Homo sapiens: one gene and its partners. Each later gene encodes a partner of the first gene's protein in a complex. Each region holds a gene or a part of one and is shown on either strand. Other genes may lie near its edges.

Region 1 (7,242 bases):
GGAAAGACAAAGGTACAAGTTTAGGCTTGCAGCCAAATGCTTCTTATGGTGTCTAAACACATGCTCAGTAGCAAAAATCCAGAAAAATGCCACCTCTGTATTTCTTGCCTAGGTTTTGTGTGTTTCTAACAAAGAGCACTTCCTGGCTGATTTTAGAGCTGGTGGTGCAACAATTTGCCATCTAGTTGAAGGCACAAGAAATAATCACTACTTCCAGGCAAGAATGCTCAATGAACAGGGGTGCATGAGCTAGCTCCTCTGCAGGGCAAGAATGGGAGGGCCTGGCAGGTCTGACATGTTATTCACAGTCCAGTCTGATTATGTGAGAGACGCTTTCCTTAGAACAGCACTTACTTCTGATCTCTCTGGAAGCATCAGCCTAAGGCCCAAAAACCTAACCAAATGGTGAAAAGCTTCCTTTGTAATCAGTAACAACATCACAAACCAAGGACTAGACACTAGTAACACAGACTCTCACCTCTGCCAACTCAAATTCAACAAAAGCAAATCCTCGGTGCTTTTCTACAAAATGGAAAAACAAAAACAAGTAATTACTATGTGGGGTAGTGGGAAGAAACAGGATGGTCACAAAGTGAAGTCAGTTACATGTCGTATCCAAACACCAGAAGTTCTATCCAATCACTATTTAGGAAGAAGGAATCTCATTCTTGATTCTTCTTATACAATATTTTAAGCAATAATAAACTTTGTTTTTTTAATGGACATAGCTGAATAGTAAACTGTATTTTTAATTGATAAGTATTCAATTATTCTACGAAAGCCAAACTTAAAACCTTAACCATTGCATGCAAAGCAATTAGAAAAATAAAGTCATTTGACCTATCAATTATCTATCTAAATATATATTTTGCGCATCAACTGTGCATAAAGCATGAATCCTAAAACCTGATAAAGATGCTCAGTCTTTATCTTCAGGAAAATGCTGAACTAACTAGAAAGACCAAGCACAATAATGTTTATCATAGAACTCAGAGACTAGAAGGCCCTTAGAAAGCCAACATAACCTTATCATTTTGCAAATAAAGATTTCCCAGGCCCAGAGAGTTTAAAGACTTTGCTAACAATCATATGCAAGGTTGATGATAAAACTAGGCCTAAAACTATAATCTTAAAAATGACAACAAAGGTAAACAGAAAACTGAACTGTGGTTGTGATACCAATCGATGGGAAACCCACCCAGGGGTGCAGAGGCCAAGAACCCCCGCCCTCACCCACCCCCATTATGGGGCTAGGCTTTCCCGCTGCCTCATTTAATAGCACAGCTGCAAGAAGGTGCAGGTGGGATGGGGTACCCATCAGGTAGATTAAAACAACATTCAAATCTCAATGTAGTTCAAACCTATCTCCCTACTGGTCTATTGAAAAATCTGTCTTATCTCAACCCAACAGCTGAAGACTCTGGAAAGTATTCAGAGTTCACAACCACATGGCCTCAGAACATTCCTTCTCCATCGAGATCACTGTCACCAGACACCTTCCTGAACTTACCTGTAGTGTATACTAACCATATTTAGAATGCATATTTAGAATTGTGATGTGACTTTAATTTTTTAAGGTATTTTCCTAGTAAGAGGATTCTGAACGTGAGAGACACTAACTCACCTGTTTCATAATCCAGAGGAATCTGAATATCTGTGATGTCTCCAAAAGGAATGAACGCAGCATGAAGAACTTTGTCGTCCACTTCCTCTGCCAGTCCACCTGCAAATAAGCCAAGGGCCTTCTGAGCCACTGATCTCCATACTCTTGCAGAAGTCCTTGCAGCCCAGTTAGCATGCTAGCCAGGGGACAGGACCCTTCCATTCAGTTCTTTGGGTAAACAAACATCCCCCTCTCATCTCTGCCCACCCATACTTATGAAAAATATTCCTCTCTTCGCCCTTCTTTCAGACTCTCATCTAGTCCTGGGATTACTGCAATAGCTTCACAACTGACCTCCCTGCCTCCATTCCATCAACTCCACAAAGCCAACTAGAATGATCTTAGGAAAATGCAAATTTGAACCCGTAACTTTTCGCTTACACTCCTTCAAAGGCTTCCCACTGTCCTCAGGATAAAGTGCAAACTCCTTAGCAGTACCCACCTCTCCAGCTTTTTTGCTTTGCTTCCTAATTTCCTGGGTCTCCCGAATAATGACCCACTTGCCCCCAAGTGTCAGGCTATTTCACACCTTTGCGACTCCCTTGCAGTGAACGGCCTTGCCTCTGCTTCGGTTACGTAGCTAACTCCTGCTCATCAGCTCTGGCATCGCCGCATCCAGAATTTGCCCTCGCTTCTCCAGATGGATGGGTCATTTGTCCCGCAGCCAGGCCCATATTATCATGATCCATCCTCACTACAGCGCTTATCAAAAGTGTGCTACTGAGGTAATTCCACTTTTTTTCTGGCTAGTCTGGGAACTCCTTCCTTTATGGCAGGGGCTGGGGCTGAGCCGTCGCTGCACTGAATGTTTGTAAAACAAATGAACGAGAGGATCCGAAGGGCCATAATACTCCTTTACCGCTCCTCGGGGCCCGCTGGAGCTCAGCGGGCTAGGAAGTCAGAATAATCATTCCGTCTCGGGTTCACGCACCTGAGGTGTGTGGCAAGGCTGTTCACTGCAAGGGAGTCGCAAAAGCAGAGGCCCAAAGGTGTGAAATAACCTGAACCTTGGGGGCAAGTGGGTCATTTTTCGGGAGACCCAGCGAATCGGGAAGCAAAGCAAAGAAGCTGGAGAAGTGCGTACTGCTAAGAAGTCTGCACTTTTTCCTGAGGACAGTGGGAAACCTTGGAAGGAGTTTAAGCACAGCCAGAGCTATCGCCAGCACTACCGCCAGAGACCCGGCCTTGACAGCAGCTCGCCGTCCTCCTGGTTCAGAGATGCGTCCCACCCCACGCCCCGACCCTTGGGGGTCGCGTTCACTCAGACTCCGCCTAGCAACCCCTCCTGCTCACCCACGTACAAGACGCGCTTGGTGGTGGCCATCTTGCTCGCGCGCTTTTCCGCCGGAAGCCAGCACTCGACCCGTCCTCTTCCCCACTGTCCCGCCCCGCCCCCAACGCTTAGCTCTTAGACCCCGCCCACCCTCGCGTTGGTCCAACCGGCATCCCGCTACCCGGATGCACTGGGCGCCTTGTGAGGTGCGCAGTGGTAAACCAAGGGACGTGGTCCTCGCGCTTCCCAGTGCGCACCGTGTTGGGGGAGGGAAACCTTGGCCGAATCAACCCGATTATTATGGGCAAACGATAAACTCTGGTGCTTGGCCATCCTGCGCGTCTGTTTTTGGACAACCTGGGAGCTAAGAATGAATTTTACCTTTTGAAATAGTTGGAAAAAATAAAAAAACTATATTTTCTTGGCCGGGCGTGGTGGCTCATGCCTGTAGCCCCAGCACTTTGGGAGGCTGAGGCGGGCGGATCACCTGAGGTCAGGAGTTCGAGAGCAGCCTGGCCAACATGGTGAAACCCCGTCTCTACTAAAAATGCAAAAATTAGCCAGGCGTGGTAGCGGGCGCCTGTAATCGCAGCTACTCAGGAGGCTGAGGCTGGAGAATCGCTTGAACCCAGGTAGCGGAGGTTGCAGTGAGCAGAGATCGCGCCGTTGCACTCCAGCCAGGGTGACGAGAGCGACACACCATCTCACAAAATATATATGTATATTTTCTTAGCACATGAAAATTATGTGAAATTAAAATTTCAGTGTCCGTAAAGAAAGCTTTATGGGGACACAGCCACGCTCATTCCTTTAAGTATGACTGTGGCTGCTTTCCTACTACAAGGGCAGAAGAGCTATAGCCTGCAAAGCCTACAATAATATTTACAATCTGGCTCTTCAGAAAGAACGTTTGTCTACTCGTGTTAGGTTTTGAAAAGAAGGCAAGGGTTAAAGAAAGACACACACACACACACACACACACACAGAAAGAGGGCGGCTCGACAGCAAACGCAGGCTTTATGTCCAGCATAATAACCTACAGAAGTGGGGAACCAGCCTAATGCCAGTGCCCACCACTGCTTACAGACTGGGCAATTTATAGGTATGGGCGGTAGGGGTCTGGGCAGTATGGGTTGCTGCCTAGCAGGATATTGATATAAAGATGTTCTCATGATGAGGCGGTTTGGCCCTTGTTCCAGTGGGATGTCATCATGGTGTCCCTTGGACCTTTGCCCAGGAAGATATGAGAGGGATGTTTCTTTAGTTGGGCCTTTGTCTGCCTTGTGGTCGGGTGGTTAGGCAGGATGTTTCTCACAGCCCAAACCCCTGTGAAATGTTTCACTTTGACCAAGGTCTGCAGAATAGCAGGGAGCTTACAAAATGGTGCAGTTTAGAGTAACATCTTGGACTAAACCCACTAATATATAAATTACAGGTTGACATAGTGGTAGGAAATAATGGGACCATCTATTTTATATGGAGCAGGGGGTTAAGACCTTCCTGAGGTGACATTTAAGCTGAATTCTGAAGGAAAAGGAGCCAGAGAGAGGAGGAGGCAGCTTCCGCACACTCAAGGAACTAAAAGACCAGAGCCTGGGATGGTGGGGTGGAGGGCATATCAGGTGGGAAAGGTAGGCAGAGGGCCACATCATGAGGGTGCTGTAAGCCTTCTGGAAGATTTGGGAGCTTTGAGAAGCTGCTGAAGTTACAACAGGAGAGTTACATGCTCACATCATTTTAGACAGTGCTCTGACACTAGGCCCAGGATGGGTTGATTGGAACCCAGGAGACCAGGAAGTTAATGTAGTAGACTAAGGAAGAGTTGATAGTGGCTCTGTTCCTCCAATCCACTTGTCCAGGGTGATTTTTTTTTTCTTTTTTTCTTTGAGACAGGGTCTTGCTCTCTTACCCAGGCTGGAAGGCAGTGACATGATCATGGTTCACTGCAGCCTCAACCTCCCAGCCTCAAATGATCCTCCCACCTTAGCCTCCCGAGTAGCAGCTGGGAGTACAGGTGCACGTCACCATGCCCAGCTAATTTTTTTTTTTTTTTTTTTTTTTTAGAGACAGGGTCTTGCCATGTTGCCCAGGCTGGTCTCAAACTCCTGGACTCAAGCGATCCTCCTGCCTCGGCCTCCCAAAGTGCTGGGATTACAAGTGTGAGCCACTACACCCGGCCTAGGGTTATCTTTCTTCAAAATAAACCTAAATTCTCTAGAACTCCCTACCTAAATCACTGATGCTGCTAACAAGGTCCTTGACAAGGGGTCCATGCCTACCTCAAGTCAACCCTGACCTCCACATCAGTTCCTCACCTACTTACCATGGGCTCTTTTTCCTTGCCTCTGCTTTTGCTCATTGAGTTCTTTCTTTTCTCCATCTGGAGGCACCCACCAGTCCTTGTCAGAGGTCCTAGTTAAGCTTCACTCACCCAAATCCCCTATAGACAGAGTCCATAGTCCCCAAGTTCAGAAGTCAATTGGAATACACCCTATAACTATAGTCAGGTATGTCTCTCTCTCCCAGTAGATGAAGGTATTTGACACCACGGCCTGTACCCATTGTATTCCCAGAGCTAAGCAGTGGCTGCGCACACAGCTGACCTTACCAACCTCATGCCAAACCAGGGAGTTGATACTTATAGGAATGAGGCTGTGAGATCTGATTAGGAGAGCTCTTTGTGTACCCGTCACTATTCCAAAACAAAAGGTCACTCTCAGGAAGAATCTGACCAGGCGTCCTTTATGTGGTGTGGTATAATAAAAAATAGATACTTGGTCTTTGTCCTAGTTCCTGGCACAGAGCTTCTAAAATCATTGGAATATCCTGAGTGCTGTGTCTTTTGTTATTCATAATGAGCCCATTTTGACCCTACCTAAGTTTGTGCTAAGCAGATGACTCAAGGTAGAACCCCTAGCTCGCTTCAGGATGGGGGTTGGTCATCAGAGAAACCAACCATGTGATTAGAGGGTTGGGACTTCCAGCTCCCGCCTCCAACCTCTGAGGAGAGGAGGGGGTTGGAAATTGGGTTCAATCACCAACACCCAGTGGTTTAATCAGCCATGCCTAGGTAATGAAACCTCATATAAACACTCTAAATGCGGTTTGGGGAGTTTCCAGGTTGGTGAATACATTGATGTGCTTGGAACACAGCATGCCTAGAGAGGGCATGGAAGCTCACCAGCCCCTCTCCATTCCCACCTTGCCCTGTGCATCTCTTCCTACAATCTTTACAGCCAAGTTTGAATGCATTGTTTGGATAAGGAGGAACAAATGTCTCCTGTGGGGAAGATAGTTCATAAAAAACCAAACGGAATCTCAGTAACCTTGGTGTCTGCGTCAGCACCAGCTTCTGGCCCTCTCTTCTTTCGTAGGCGCGTGGGTCACTCACTCAGCACCTGCTTCTGTTCTTGGGAAAGTGCTGCCGCCAGCATGGAGGCAGTCAGGGGTTCCTGGCCTGCACATGGACAGCAGGCTGGGGTGCCTGGGAACCAGGAGAAGCAGTGGGTTAGCACCCAAGGAAAGGACAGCACTCGATGGTGGTCAAAGTTAGGACACTCCAACCACTCGACACCTGAATGCTACCATTCAGAATCCAGGCGAAGGGGAGAAGTAATGGTTTTTGACCAAATTCAGCGCATTTTGAGGGGAGTGGTGGTGATATAAAACTGTATAGATTCTCCATCGCGCTCAGTGCCTCACGCCTGTAATTCCAGCACTTTGGAAGACGGAGGCGGGTGAATTTCTTGAGCTCAGGAGTGTGAGACCAGCCTGGCCAATATGGCAAAACCCTGCCTCTACTAAAAACACAAAAATTAGCCAGGTGTGGTGGTGTCTGTCTGTAGCTTCAGCTACTCAGGAGGCTGAGGCAGGAGAATCACTTTAACTCAGGAGGCGGAGGTTGCAGTGAGCCGAAATTGTACCACCGCACTCCAGTCTGGGTGGCAGAGTGAAATTCTGACTCAAAAAACTAACTATGAAGCTGAGTGTGGTGGCTCACACCTATAATCCAAGCAATTTGGGAGGCCGAGGTGGGCGGATTGCCTGGGGTCAGGAGTTCAAGACCAGCCTGGCCAACATGGTGAACCTCTGTCTCTACTAAAAACACGAAAATTAGCTGGACGTGGTGGTGTGCACGTGTAGTCCCAGCTACTCGGGAGGCTGGGGCGGGAGAATCACTTGAACTCGGGAGCCAGAGGTTGCAGTAAGCCAAGATGGCACTACTGCACTCCAGCCTGGGTGATAGAGTAAGACTCCATCTCAAAAAAACATCCAAACAAACAGAAAAACTGCATAGATTCTCATC
Region 2 (7,731 bases), on another chromosome or scaffold:
CCAGCTGTGGACTTTTTGGGTTAGCCTTGACCCGCAAGGGCACAGCCTTGACTGCGGTGGTCCAGTCTCAGCCCCAATGGTCCAGCCTTGGTCCTTTTGGGTTAGAATTGACCCCCAACCCACAATGGGTCCAGCCTTGGCTCCACTAGTCCAGCCTCAGTCCTGACTGGTCTAGCCTTGGCCCCTTTGGGTCAGCCTTGATCCCATGGGTCCAGCCTTGACTATAGTGTCCAGCCTGGGCCCCACGGGTCCAGCCTCAGTCCTGACTGGTCCAGCTTAGAATCCAAACGTCATAAAACAGATACTTTAAGTTTGAGCAAACCATGCCCCACTCCCGCCCGGCTGGTGCTTCCACTCTCCACCCTGCCTGCTTCTCCCCACCCCTATTCCTGGCCCTCTTCATGGCTGTGGTTTTACTCTAGTTCATGCCATCAGCTCATATGCATCTGTCTTCCTACTTAGACTAAAAGCTCCGTGCAGGCAGGGAGTGTCTTAGTCACACTGTCCTCAGCACCCATCGCTATGCCTAATGTGAAACCAGTGTGAACAAACTATTTGGAAAATAAAGACATGAATCACGGACAACAACAAAACACATGCATCTCCAGGAGCCTCTTCCCACATCCCGTCTGCTGGGTGACATCCTACGCGGAGCTAGTGTCACAGTGAGGCCGTTTCTGGAAACTAACCTGGGGAACCAGCGCACCTGCTAGGCTCACCTTGAGGAAGCGCCGATAGCCTCGCACAGCTGTCTCAGGCAGTGGGTGTGAGCGCAGGAAGCGCAGATACAGGGGCCAAATTCGAGAGTGCTGCGTGATGGGCAGTGCCCGGAGGGCACGGTCGAAGGTGCGGCGGGTGTGTGTGACGCGCCCCTGGTCCATGAGGAACTGGCAGTAATCTAGCCACAGACGAGGCATCTGGGGGTGTGGGGAGAGGCGGCTGGGGCTAAGCCACGGACTCCATGGCCTGGCCACAGACACTCGATGTCCTGTGGCTGAGCCACACCTGGGGCCACCACATAAATGCGGCGGGACCCAGAAACCCCCAGCTCCAGGACTGAGTCCAGCCCAACTTCCCATGCAAAGAAGCAACAGGAATCCAAGCCCCCATCCCTAACATGCTGAGCCCAGCCCCTGTCCCCGCCCCACCCACCACCATGGACTGAGCTCCACTTCCCGATTCATCCCCTCGCCGAGCCCCAAACCTTGTGCATGAACACAAAGGCCCTCTCATGACAGTTGTTGACATCTTCATAGGCAGGGTCGGTCACACAGCGATGCTTCACCTGTGCCCGACGCGCCTTCAGGTATCGGTACCAGAGTTTGTAGCTGGGGAATAGGAGGGGACAGATGCTGATCGGTCAGCTTTATGGACACCCCCAGAACCATTTGCCCTGCCCCAGTTGGCAAATGTGGGAAGAAGGGGTGTGGGAGGGGTGACATGTCTCAGCAATGACAGGGACAGACTGGGACATCAGAGAAGGTGTGCTGACCCATCAAGGGATGTACAGGTCAGTGATGAAACACGAAGCAATCACCCGGGACCCGGGACCCACTTGGCAGTTTTGTTATAACTGGACCAGGTGGGGTGGGGGCTGGTGGGCAGGGCAGCTGGAGCCATTCCCACCTGCAGGGCAGCAGCTTGAGTGCCCGCTCGTATAGCTGATTGAGCCTGGGCTTCGGGGCGCCCTGTTTGAACTCGATGTAGCGAAGCCAGCATTTGACAGAGAATTGGTTCCGCATGATTTCCTCCTCATAGGGGAGGTCCTCTTCCTCCTGCCAGGGCCAGGGAATGGGAAGAAGAGAGGCCTACCCTCAGAGCCTGTGTGCAGCACCATCCCACTGCTGGGGCTCAGGTCCAAACTCCGGACTTTTACCTAGATCCCACCACCCACCAAGGAAGTCAGGTCACCAGATGCCCAGGCACCAAACCAGATGCCCGACACCAAGACAGTGGCCCAGACCTTTACCCCTCAGAATTCAACTACCCAAAATCGAACCCAAATCATCAGACTTCTCAGTCATTAGGGCTCTGGGCCAGGAATGAGTCCGCATCACCACTCGCTTTCTGCCCCAGATGGTCAGACTCCTTAGATACCAAGGCCCTGGCCCAGATGCCAGTCCTGGACACCAGACCCCACTTCTTCAAAACGTGCCTCTTCCCAGACACCAGGCCTTTGGCCCCTCAGACTCCCACTGTCACCATCTGACCCATCTCCACCCCAGGCCCAGATGACCAGATCTTTACCCCAGCCACCAGGGCTCTCAGGTCCAGATTCCAAGCCACTAGCCCCGCCCCCAGGATCCCACTAGCCAGCGTCTAGCTCAACTCTGCCCCAGAAATTAAAAGCTAGGCCTTTATCTCACAGGAGGAGTTATACACCAGAAGCCAAGCCTTTAACTCTGCACACCAAGAATCTGGTGAAGATGTCACGCCTCTACTCCAGAGAGTAAGTATTTCACTGGCCATCGCCTGACAAGCTCCACATCACCAGGGTTCTTCTAGCCTGGCCACCACCCCAGAAACTGTCATGCTGCAGTCCAGGCCTAGAGACCGCTATCCAGAAAACCAAGCCTTCATCCCAGAAACCAGAACCCTGGCCTCGTAAGCAAGCCTTTACTTCAGACACCGATCTTCACCTCTCAAGGTTCAGTTATGCGATCTTCCTCCTCTCCCATTCCCTGCACGCCCCCATTTCCGCCCCTGGTTCGGGAGGCTAGACGCTTCCCTTCGACAGTGGTTTTCTACTCAGACCCGAAGATACAACACCATATTTTTACTCCTGGACAGTTCGGTGCGGACATGACGATCCGGTCTCTGGCCCATTAGGGTTCCCAGACCTTGGCCTGGCAGTTTCGGCCTAAATCTCCTTGCCGACCCAGCCTCGATCCCCTGCGGCGTCCAGGTCCCAATGCCCCAACGCAGGCCACCCCCGGCTCCTCTGTGGACTCACGAAGACAAGGTCCGGCCGCTCGGGCCGCGAGAGTCGCGCCATCACCACCATTTTTCTGGATGCCCAGGTACAGGAGAGAGTCGCGCGCTTATGACGTCTACCACTGACGGCCCGCCCCTCCGAGCCAGACCCGTTTTCTATTGGTTAAATCATTTTTGACGGACAGGCCCACGTTATTGACTTCTTTTCGACGACGCCAGCGACCGGAAGCAGAATAGAGGCGCCAGAAGATGCGCCATCAGGATACACATTGGCCAATCAGCTTCAGCAATGGAGCGTGCAAAACACCAGTGAGCTTCTGTCTTGCTGGAGGGTCGGCTTTGGGCGGAACTGGCTTTGTTGACCGGGAGAAACGAGATGGGGGTGAAGCTGGAGATATTTCGGGTCAGTGGACACAGGAGTGGGTTGGGAGGCTGGGCAGGGGATCTTCCTGGATCTGAAGATGAGGTTGGAAATGGGGGGACTTCAAAGGAAGAGGGAGCTCCAAGGAGAAAGCTCTTAAGATTTGAGAGGAACCTTTCTGGTTGGAAATCCAGGAGAGGGGACGCTGGGCTGGGGGGGTTCTCGGATTTGGGCTTCTGGGTTTGGGGGCTGTGAGAGGGCTGGTCCGAGGAAGGACCTCAGAGAGGGGTGAGCTGAGAAGGGGGCTCTAAAGAAGGAAGACTTAAGATCCTGGGGGAGCTCTCGGGCTCGTGGTGGGTGGGTGTCTATGACAGGGAGATTCCTAGACTTCGAGAAGTGGAGTTGAAGAGTGACGCCTCCTGGGTTTGGGGGTGCTCCCGGGATCTTAAGTGGGGATGGGTAATGAGGTCTCGAGGAGATGCTTTTGATTGTAGCTGGGGCGTCTGTGTGTCTGTCTGTGTTTGAGAGGAAGACTCCAGCTCAGAGGGAACTTTCAGGAATGAGGCCTCCTGGATTATAGGAGTTAGGTTTTAGGGTGCGAGGTTTCTGTACCCTTGGTGGGAGTTCTGGGATTCTTGGGTCGGCCGTAACGAGGCGCTTCTGGACTCTGCAGTAGGATGGGTCCCCCAGGCTCTGAGGAGCCTCTGCACATTGCTTGGGGGGAGCTCACCTCACCCACCCTCTGCCATTCCAGATGATAATCTACCTCACTTTCCCTGTGGCTATGTTCTGGGTTTCCAATCAGGCCGAGTGGTTTGAGGACGATGTCATACAGCGCAAGGTGGGCATAAGAGGAGTGTTTGAGGGTTCATTCCAGGGGTGGGAGAGGGTGTGGGGCAGCAGTCTGCTGGGGACTAATGTCTGCCTCCCATAAGCCGACCCTGCCCTGATGTGGGGCTCTGGAGGCCTTTGGCTCGTGTCCCATTTGTGACTTTTCCTTACAGAGGGAGCTGTGGCCACCTGAGAAGGTAAGTGATCTCTTCTTCCTGCCAGAGGGATGGAGGAGGCTGGATTCTTGTATCCGGGATGGGTTTTAGATGAAAATTTTAGGCCAGGCGCAGTGGCTCATGCTTGTAATCCCAGGGCATGGGAGGCTGAGGTGGGTAGATCACTTGAGGTCAGGAGTTCAAAACCAGCCTGGCCAACATGGCGAAACCCCATGTCTACAGAAATACAAAACTTAGCCAGGCATGGTGGCAGGCGCCTATAATTCCAGCTGCTTGGGAGGCTGAGGGAGAAGAATCACTTGAACCCAGGAGGTGGAGGTTGCAGTGAGCCCAAGATCACGCCACTGCACTCCAGCCTGGGCAATAGAGTGAGACTTTGTCTCAAAAAGAAACATTTTACTCTCAGCCATGAGTAAGGAACCGAGAGCAGAGGAGTAGATGGTTTCCTTATTGCCTTCTCCTGGAAGAGTGAAGCGGATCCCACGCGGACCCCTTTGTAATTGGCAGGGGGCTTCCAGTGAAGACACTGAACCCTGAAGCCGTGGTCTGGGGCAGGGTGGTGGGAGAGGTGGGCGGGGGGGGGTGGTCCCGGCTCTGAGGTGTGTGCCCCTCCCCCCTTCCTGTCCCACCCGCTTCTCCACCCCTAGCTTCAAGAGATAGAGGAATTCAAAGAGAGGTTACGGAAGCGGCGGGAGGAGAAGCTCCTTCGCGACGCCCAGCAGAACTCCTGAGGCCTCCAAGTGGGAGTCCTAGCCCCTCCCCTGATGAAATATACATATACTCAGTTCCTTGTTATTCATTTAAGTGTTTTATTCTTTTATCAGTTTTTGGGGGCCGAGTGAGACCCAGGATGCCTCAGGCCCTCAGGGGGCTTGTGTCGGGGGCTGGGGGCTGCTGTTCCGACGGAAGCCGAGAGCGGTCGGGTCCTGAGGGGTGAGCAGGGGTTGGGGACTGAGGGTCCCAGCTCGTTTCTGTGCTCCGTCCTGTGGATGAAGAGGGGTCAGCCAGGGGGAGGGCTCAAGGGCAGTGCCGGCCACAGGTGGCGAACAATGGAGAGAGGGTGCAGGTAGCCACCGTGTCCCACCTCATTGTGAGCACTGGTCTATGTTTACCCTCAATATCTGCCATTTAGGGTGGCATTTGAGTGTGAGGTGGCAGGTCTTGGGGCCCTCGCTGGGATCTTGATCAGAACCCAAGCTTCGTGTATGTGTGAAGTCAACAGATGTGAGTATACAGATGTATATATCCTATGTGTGAGCTTACGTGACTTCCTCCCTGGGATACTTTCCTAGGAAGGGGTCCTATTTTCTCCCTTTGGCCTCCCCAGAACCTTCAGACTTGGGGGCAGGAGCCACAAGTTCCAGCCATGGGTCTTACACTAGCATGGCCCCTGTATAACCTTGGGCCCCTCTAGCCACTGCCTGGGCCTTGGTCCTCCCATCTGAAGTCAGGGCAGCGGATGGACAGAGATGGGGCAGGCCCTGTTCCCTCCTGGCTGGGGTGGAGGGCAGGATCGGAGAGCACTGCCTGGCGGGTTTCTCCTCGACATCGCCAGAACATCACCTACCTTGGACCCCACGGGCTGGAAGCCGGGCAGGCTGCTGACTGTCACACGTTGGTCATCCATGCGGCGGCCCTGGGTACTGGCCAGCATGTCCATGAGGCTGTCCATCTCGGGGGTGGGGTCGCTCTCTGCGTGGACGTTCACAGACTTGGGAGGACACAGCCGGAGTGGGGGCCCCCAACCCTACCCCTTCACCCCCACACAGATGCTTCAGGGTGCACAACCACCTCCCACATCCCGTGCCCCCAGGCCCTCCAGATGACCACTTGCCCTGCACTCCCACCCCGTTCACGCCCCATGGACAGCACCCCCGTGCCCATGCTCACGGCTCTTGGTGGTCTGGCCCGGCCCGGCTTGCAGTGAACAGCGCTGTCCCTCCATCCGGTCGCCCTGCACGTGGCTCAGCAGATTGAAGAAGCCCTCCTGGTCTGGGGAGCCCGCCTGGGGACAGACTCGCTCAGTCTGGTTGGCCCTTCAGCTTGGGGGCCCCTCCCCAAACTTCCTAGCCAGCTTGCTCACACCCTGACCCCGGGGCCTGCCGTCCCCACTTCCTCAGCTCTCACCATGGTCCCCGCCGATCCTCTCTGCAGAGCTGTTCTGAATGAGACATGAGTCTCCTTCCCAATCCCGGCCCCCGCCCCAGGGGCCCTGGCCAGCAGTGCCACTTCACGTGGTACCGCTTCAAGGGACAGGCTCCGATGCGTGTCCCGCCGTCCTAGATTGGGGCCTGATGAGTGTGGCCTGGGAGCTGGGACACGAATCAGGGAAACATGGCCCAGGAGCTACCCCCAGGTCCCAGCATCTCCCATCAATAGGGGTCCACACGGAGAGCCCTGCCCTCTGCCCTGGGGCCTGGCACTCAGACCCCCAAGCCCACCAGCCCCTTTCTACAGCCACAACTGGGTCAGGGGGTCCTAGGAGACTCACTCGTTAATTAGGTGCCCTACAAACTAGTCTTGTCAATCATGGGCTCTGAGACCTTGAGCTGGGGGTGGGGTGGGGGCAGGGCCCTCTCACCTCGGCACAGGGGCCTGAGCCTTCCTCCGTCTTCTCCTCCTGATCCATCATGTCCCTGGACTCCAGTCACTTTTCTGCTGGCCTCTGCCCCGGCCCAGTGCCAGAGAGGGCCTTTTAAACGTCCAGGACGTGGGGGTGTGGATTCCCCCCATCCCCAAATCCCCAGCTCATGCCCCATCTGCTCCCACCCAAGCTTAAGCCCCATAAAGATCATCCAGATAATTGTTTGCCCACAACGATGCTGGATCTGGCATGGTGGGTAGGGGGCAGGGCGACCTGAGCTTGGACCTCGCTGTGCCCAGCAGCAATGACTGGACCCCAGGGACTCTCAGGTGTGATGTCACAAAAGGCCTGAGCAGCATCCCCACAGTTGGAGAAGGGAGGCCAACAGTGTAGGGTGGTAGCTGGCTTAGGGAGGACTTGCAGGTGTCCCCACCCAGCCACCCAGGTTCCCCCACTGGCTCCTGAAAGGGCAGCTGCCACCTGCAGTCGGTACAGAAAAAGGAGGTTGGAGTCAAAGGCCCCTTCCCTCCCTCCCTCTCTGCACCTGCCTCAGACACCACCGGCCACCCTAGCTCCAGCTCTGTCTCCTTGGCAGCAAGTCAAGGGGTCTCCCAGCCACCCTTCCTTCAACTCACTGTCCCTGGAGCCTGGTTGCCTGCCCCAGACCCCAAAACAAGAAAGTCTGGGGTCTCCTGTTCCCACACCACCTAAATGCCAGGTTGAGCTATCTCCTCTCCTCTATCACCCTAGCCCCAGGTGGGAACAGGAGGCGAGACTCCCTGGGGACAGAGGCAGGCGGGGAGAGGACGTCCCTGCCTTTTCCCCCGAGCCACTGTGGCTTTCCC
Region 3 (7,022 bases), on another chromosome or scaffold:
GGGGGATGGAAGAACTCCAAGGAGAGCCCCAGCTGGGTCCTAATACCCCAGGAGCCTTCTGGCTTCTTCACTTTGGGCCTGCAGGGTCTCGCTTGCATACTTCTGGAGGAGTTCCATTTTCTTCCTTCGCACCAGTGCCTCCTCAATCTGTGGAAATTAAGAGTGCAGGGCTCACTCCTCAGCAAAGCCCCTCAACCCCTGCCAGACCCAGCCAGGAGGAAGTCCCCGTGGGAGAAGTCCATCAAGGAGTCTGATTTAAATACGCAGAATAGTCTCCAAGAGTCCTAACTCCCTCCCATTGGAAACATTTGAACGATAGAATGGCCTAGAGCAGAGGGTCCTGCCCTTTTTGGACCCCACACCCTGAACACAATGACAGGTGTCATGTGGTCAGGACCCTGAGCTGCCCTGATGGGTAGGAAGGACAACGAAAACCCACTACAGTGCTCTGTGAAGTCTGCTTTAGAGAAGCCCCCGGCGCCCAGGCAGCTCTTAGCTGTGGTCCTACCTCTTGCTGCGAGGGAACAGGGACGTGAGCAATGAACTTCTGCTGGCTGTCGTCCCCTCCTTTCTCCTGGCTGCCTTCCTCGTCCGACTACAAACAGAACAAACGAAAGTCCATCAGTAGGCGCCCAGCTAGATAAATGCTGGCAACTCTATAAAACACACTACTCTGCAACTATTTAAAAGAAAAAAAAACTAAGAAAGTTCTATACTTATAGAAAGACACTTGACCCACAAGATTAAGTAAAAAAAGCCATAGAACACGCTGTATATTATGCTACCTTTTGTCTAAGGAGGAAATAAGAATAGAAATTACTGACGGCAGTGAGACCAAGGTAGATGAGGGACAGGGTGAGGAAAGAGAATCTTTGTGGAATATCTTTATATTCTTTTTCACTTTTGAACCTTGTGAATGTATCACTATTTTAAAAAATTTAAATGTAAAAGAATGTACCATGCATAGAAAAATAATCAGCTCAGAGGTTGCCTATGAGTCAATACAAATTTCTAATAACAAAGAAAACACCACGGACTTGGAAAGAGAGAAGGGGTCTTGTGGCGAGTCAGGAGTCCACTGTTTGCTGGGCTCTGCCAGACACCGTGCACGACCCATTCCCTGACTGGCTCCCAGTGGGGATGGCTTCAAAAGCCTCTTGAGGAACCTCTCATCCACTGCTGGCACTTGGAGAAACTGGTTGTATCTAACACTAAACACATACCTACCCTGATCTGGTGGTTCCACTCCTCAGCATGTACTCAAGAGAAACACTGCACGGGAACAAGAAAATTCCCAGCAACCCTATCTGCCAAAACCCCAATCTGGACACAACACAAATACCCACAAACATTAGACACAAAAGAGTACACACGACTCACATATGTAAAGTTCAGACACAAGTGAAATATATGGGTCACAAGAGGTCAGGAGGGTGACCCCTGAGGCAGTAGTGAGCTTCTGGCGCTGTGGTCCTGTTCTGTTTCTTCACTGGTATTTGCTATGTGTGTGTGTGTTCACCCTGTGAAAATCCAGTGACCTACACATTTAGCAGGTGTGTACTTTTCTGTATATGGAACAACACTCAGCAGTGAAAAGGAATGAACTATTGAACTCAACAACCAGAGGGATGGCAAGGGCATCATGTTAAGTGTCAAGGCCATCGTGAAAGGTGACTCACAGCATGATCCCATTTATAAAACATTCTGAAATGACAAAATCAGAGATGGAGAACAGGTTAGGGTTCAGCTAGGAGAAGAGATGGTGAGGACAGGGAGGTGTGAACTGTGAAGGGGTGGCACCAGGGATCTTTGTAGTAAGGGGACAGTTCCCAGGCTGGAGTGCAGTGGTGCAATCACAGCTCACTGTAATCTGAACCCCCTGAGCTCAAGCAATTCTCACACCTCAGCCTCCTGAGTAGCTGGGACTATAGGCATGTCCAACCACACCTAGCTAATTGTTTTTATTTTTGGTAGAAACAGGGCCTCATTGTGTTGCCAGACTGGTCTTGAACTCCTGAGTTCAAGCAATCCTCCCACCTCAGCCTCCCAAAGTATTAGGATTACAGGTGTGACCACCACCCCCGGCCAGTTCTGTATCTGGATTGTCATGATGGCCACATGGATCTCCACACATGGAGACAAATGACACAGAACTCCACACACTCAATATGCCAATGTCAACCTCCCAGTTTTACTACTGTGCTAGAACTACATGAGATACAACCACTGGGGGGAACTGGGTGAAGCATACACAAGATCTCTCTGTACTCTTTGCAACTTCCTGTATCTCTATAATTATTTGAAAAGAAAAAAAAATTCTGCTGTGGGTTTCCACTGCTCTTCCCCACAACGCCAGCTCCCCATCAGCCTCCACTCACACCCAGCACCCACTCTCTGCACTCCAGCACACTGGGCTGTCCTTTGTCTCTCACACTCATCACAGGATCTCTCAGCACATGATGCGCCCCTGCTGGGAGCCCTCTCTCATCTCCTCCTTCCTTGGTTAAGTTCGCTGGATCATCCTAATCTCAGCTGAGGGTTTAGCTTCCCAGCAGAGTGTCTGCAGGCTGTCCCTGCACCAGGCTCTATTGAGGGACTGTTGCTCACTGTCTCTCTTACTGGACTGCCTCCCCCTGGACTATGAGCTACACTCCAAGCCTCTGTACCACCATGCCCCTGCACCTGGAATGCGGCTGGCTCACAGGAGCCATGAATTAAACACCTGCTGAGAGAGCAAATGAATATTTGTACCTAGAGGAAATCCTCCTAAGGCATGCTGCCATCCTGCTTCAGACCTGCACTGAACCCCAGTGCTGGCCCAGCTGGACATGAGCAGGAACGTCAGGCCTGTTATATCCCATGTGACATTAAGTCACTAAACCTGAGCCTGCTTCTTCACCAGTGATGTCTCAGCAAGCTCCTCATGTGGAACCTGAGCCATCATCCATGTGTGGGTGATCCCCTCCCTTCTCTCAGTCCAGCAAATCAGATCCACCTAGACCTGTGCAGGCAGCAAGGACTCCAAATATAGGGCCCCGCAGAAGAGCTCTGCCTGGGAGGCAGAGATTTCAAATGTTGAATTTTCCTTGTTTCAGAATACCTCCTTTAATGCAGTGAAGTTTTGGTAATGTTTCATAGAAAAAATAAAAGGTGTAGCACAGACAGATATGTCAAGATTACTTACATGGTGGCTATAATAAAAAGTAATAACTAAGATATATAATGAGTATTTCCTATAAATCAGAAAATATGCAAAAGATCAGAAAATATGCAAAAGGTCTGAAAATATGCAAAGATTCCCCAACCATGACCCTCTAAGAAAGTTTCTTCTCTGCTCTGCGTTTCTTTCCATGTGTAAGACAGGGGTGTTAGGGCTGGGAGCAATGGTTCACACCTGTCATCCCAGCACTTTGGGAGGCCAAGGCAGGTGGATCACAAGGTCAGGAGTTCGAGACCAGCCTGGCCAATATGGTGAAACCCCGTCTCTACTAAAAATACAAAAATTAGCCATGCGTGGTGGCACTCGCCTGTAGTCCCAGCTACTTGGGAGGTTGAGGCAGAAGAATTGCTTGAACCCGGAAGGCAGAGGTTGCAGTGAGCCAAGATTGTGCCACTGCACTCCAGCCTGGGCAACAGAGCCAGATTCCGTTTCAAAAAAAATAAAAAAGATGGGGGTGTTAGACTACAGAAGAGCAACTGCCACTGACACGTGAACAGAAGTGATGAGGTCATGGGCTAAAGCTCATGGCTTCCTCTGTGTTTATCAGTCTAATTCTAGTGTATGCAGAAGGGCCTGTCTTTAAGAAGGAAAGAAGGAAGCCCTGGTGTAAAGCACGGCCGGCAGGGCACTCTCATGGCTGCTGCCTCCTGAAACCCTCCTGTAATCTCGCAAGTGTTTTCACAGCCATCCTGCAGGTGAGCAAGCTGGGCTGTGAACCCTGACTCTGTATTTGGGAGCCAAGTTTCCTCCCTGCCACACTTCATGGCTTGGAACAGATGGCAGTGAGTGCCAGAGGGGGCCAACCCCAATACCTCCTCCTCGGTGACTGCATAGATGTTGATCTCTTCCTCCTCTTCCTCCTCCTCTTCCTTTTCTCCTCTTGCCAGCCGAGCCTCTCTCTCTGCTTTCCACTTTTCCACTAACTCGGCTCTGACTGAACACAAGAGAGGGTAGGTGCTATTTATTTGTCTCTAAATGAGCTTTCAACACTATGCAGGGAAAGGCCAACACTATGCAGGGAAAGTCTAGACATCCCCTCTAGAAAGGGACACCCTTCATTCTGCCCCCGTGGGTGGAAATGGATGTGAAGCATGGTAGTCCTACAACAGCTCTGGCCTTCAGTCACTACAAAGCAGCTTTTTAGGGAACATTCCCAAATCCTCCCCACTTCCACAACCTGAGTGGATTCCCAACATGTCCACATGAAAAGAGAGAAGGCAGGGGCAGAGCATGCTAGAAAGCAGCTCCAGCTCCAGACCACTTGCTTCCAAAGTCCTGGCCTGATGTGTCACATGGGCACTGGTATTAGCACGAATCCACATGGTGACCTCCTAGCAGACAGGGACCGGTCAGACGTGGCTCTCATGGCTTCCCCAACCTGTTACCTCTGGCCCACACAGCTTTGACTGCCTCACAGGGGTCAGGGAATTAGCAGACCATCACGCCTGAAGATCATTAGCAACAAAGAAAACTCCCTTCTGGCATAAAGCACTATTGAAAATCCTGTTTTCAAAGGACACAACAGAAAACAGATGCCATCTATTATGAAATAAAATGCCCAGAGACCTACGTTTCTTTTCATATTCCTGTTCCAAAGGCACAATAACACCATCATCTTCATCTAGGTAACCATAGTACTCAAAATCGATTGCCTTCATGAGCTCAGCACGTGTCTTTCTGGGAGGAGGAAGAGCTATAAGAAACAGAAATGGAGCTGAGTTTCCAAGTCATAATCACACTCCAGCGAAGCTGTCTCCTGATGCAACGCTATACACACACGTGGCACGTATGTTCATGAAAATACCAGGTGGGCGCAGTGGCTCATGCTTGTAATCCTAGCGCTTTGGGAGGCCCAGACAGGTGGCTCACAAGGTCAGGAGTTCGAGACCAGCCTGACCAACATGGTGAAACCTCGTCTCTACTAAAAATACAAAAATTAGCCGGGCGTGGTGGTGCGCACCTGTAATCCCAGCTACTCAGGCTGTGGCAGGAGAATCGCTTGAACCTAGGAGGCAGAGTTTGCAGTGAGCCGAGATCACGCCACTGCACTCCAGCCTGGGCGACAAAACAAGACTCCATCACACAGAAAAAGAAAATACCATGGATAGACACTTTTCTATACTATTCATGGAATTATTTAAGTGGTAGAGCCCTTTTTAAAATCAGTACTTGGACCCATTTGTCCGTTTAAAAGCAATCTACCTAAGTAAAAAACAAAACCAGGCCGGGTGCGGTGACTCATGCCTGTAATCCCAGCACTTTGGGAGGCCGAGGCGGGAGAATCACGAGGTCAGCAGTTCAAGACCAGCGTGGCCAATATGGTGAAACCCCATCTCTACTAAAAATACAAAAATTAGCCAGGCATGGTGGTGGGGGCCCCTGTAATCCCAGCTACTCCTGAGGCTGAGGCAGGAGAATCGCTTGAACCCAGGGGACAGAGGTTGCAGTGAGCGAAGACTGCACCACTGCACTGCAGCCTGGGCGACAGAGCGAGACTCCATCTCAAAAAAAAAAAAACAAAAACCAAACACGAGATAGCAAAAAGCTTCATGTACAGAAATATGCATCACAGTATTATTTATATAATAGAGAAAACTTGGGAATAACCTATGATTGTAAATTGCAGAATATGTATGGGATGGGATATCCTGCAGCCCCTGTAATGCTATTTCACAAAGTATTTTAATAACACAGGAACTGTCATAATGTTTAATGAAAAAGCATGACAGGAAACATAAGTAAATAAAAAAGACAAAAGAAGCTAGAAACAAACAAAAAAGATACATGAGAAAGCCCTAAAGAAGATATTTTCAGACTAGGACTACAATCCAGAATATTTAAGTAATTCTTTTTTTTTTTTGAGATGGAATTTCGCTCTTGTCCAGGCTGGAGTGCAATGGCATGATCTTGGCTCACTGCAACCTCTGCATCCCGGGTTCAAGCGATTCTCCTGCCTCAGCCTCCCGAGTAGCTGGGATTACAAGCACCCGCCACCACACCCAGCTAATTTTTGTATTTTTAGTAGAGATGGGGTTTCACCATGTTGGCCAGGCAAGTCTCGAACTCCTGACCTCAGGTGATCCACCCGCTTAGGCTTCCCAAAGTGCTAAGATTATAGGTGTGAGCCACTGCACCCGGCTAAGTAATTATTAAAAATGAAAAACAAAATGACAACCAACCAGATTGGTGAAAGAATAAAAGCTGGCCAGGTGCAGTGACTCATGCCTGTAATCCCAGCATGTTTTTTTCTTTTTTTTGTGGGACGGAGTCTCGCTCTTGTTGCTCAGGCTGGAGTGCAATGGCGCAATCTCAGCTCACCACAACCTCCGCCTCCTGGGTTCAAGCAATTCTCCTGCCTCAGCCTCCTGAGTAGCTGGAATTACAGGCACGCACCACCACGCCCGGCTAATTTTGTATTTTCTTCTTCTTCTTTTTTTTTTTTTTTAAAGACAGAGCCTCGCTCTGTCACCCAGGCTGGAGTGCAATGGCGTGATCTCAGCTCACTGCAAGCTCCGCCTCCTGGGTTCACGCCATTCTCCTGCCTTAGTCTCCCGAGTAGCTGGGATTATAGGCACCTGCCACCATGCCCAGCTAATTTTGTATTTTCTTCTTCTTTTTTTTTTTATTTTTTATTTTTTAATTTTATTTTTTTAGACAGAGCCTCACTCTGTTGCCCAGGCTGGAGTGCAATGGCGCGATCTCAGTTCACTGCAAGCTCCGCCTCCTGGGTTCACGCCATTCTCCTGCCTCAGCCTCCCAAGTAGCTGGGATTACAGGTGCCCGCCACCATGCCCAGCTAATT

The links. The genes of interacting proteins can lie anywhere in the genome.
Region 2: PPIE (region 1) and XAB2 share a complex: the UniProt entries of both Homo sapiens proteins name them as parts of the XAB2 complex.
Region 3: PPIE (region 1) and ISY1-RAB43 share a complex: the UniProt entries of both Homo sapiens proteins name them as parts of the XAB2 complex.

Annotation. Positions count from the first base shown.
Region 1 is NC_000001.11:39,734,646-39,741,887, reverse strand, and holds the start of PPIE (peptidyl-prolyl cis-trans isomerase E), read right to left. Parts: upstream 3,007-7,242; 5' UTR 2,988-3,006; coding exon 2,957-2,987; exon of another isoform or gene 2,595-2,956; intron 1,724-2,594; coding exon 1,625-1,723; intron 523-1,624; coding exon 479-522; intron 1-478. UniProt on the Homo sapiens protein: Involved in pre-mRNA splicing as component of the spliceosome. Combines RNA-binding and PPIase activities.
Region 2 is NC_000019.10:7,626,524-7,634,254, forward strand, and holds the start of XAB2 (pre-mRNA-splicing factor SYF1), read right to left. Parts: upstream 3,023-7,731; 5' UTR 3,005-3,022; coding exon 2,954-3,004; intron 1,776-2,953; coding exon 1,627-1,775; intron 1,329-1,626; coding exon 1,205-1,328; intron 918-1,204; coding exon 720-917; intron 1-719. Other genes in the region: protein PET100 homolog, mitochondrial, read left to right, coding at 3,311-3,337, 4,050-4,136, 4,300-4,323, 4,950-5,033; PCP2 (Purkinje cell protein 2 homolog), read right to left, coding at 5,166-5,285, 5,870-5,994, 6,193-6,307, 6,430-6,614, 6,884-7,097. UniProt on the Homo sapiens protein: Involved in pre-mRNA splicing as component of the spliceosome. Involved in transcription-coupled repair (TCR), transcription and pre-mRNA splicing.
Region 3 is NC_000003.12:129,130,042-129,137,063, forward strand, and holds part of ISY1-RAB43 (ISY1-RAB43 protein), read right to left. Parts: intron 4,914-7,022; coding exon 4,791-4,913; intron 4,155-4,790; coding exon 4,033-4,154; intron 596-4,032; coding exon 509-595; intron 148-508; coding exon 47-147; coding exon of another isoform or gene 40-46; exon of another isoform or gene 1-39. Other genes in the region: pre-mRNA-splicing factor ISY1 homolog, read right to left, coding at 40-147, 509-595, 4,033-4,154, 4,791-4,913. UniProt on the Homo sapiens protein: Component of the spliceosome C complex required for the selective processing of microRNAs during embryonic stem cell differentiation. Required for the biogenesis of all miRNAs from the pri-miR-17-92 primary transcript except miR-92a.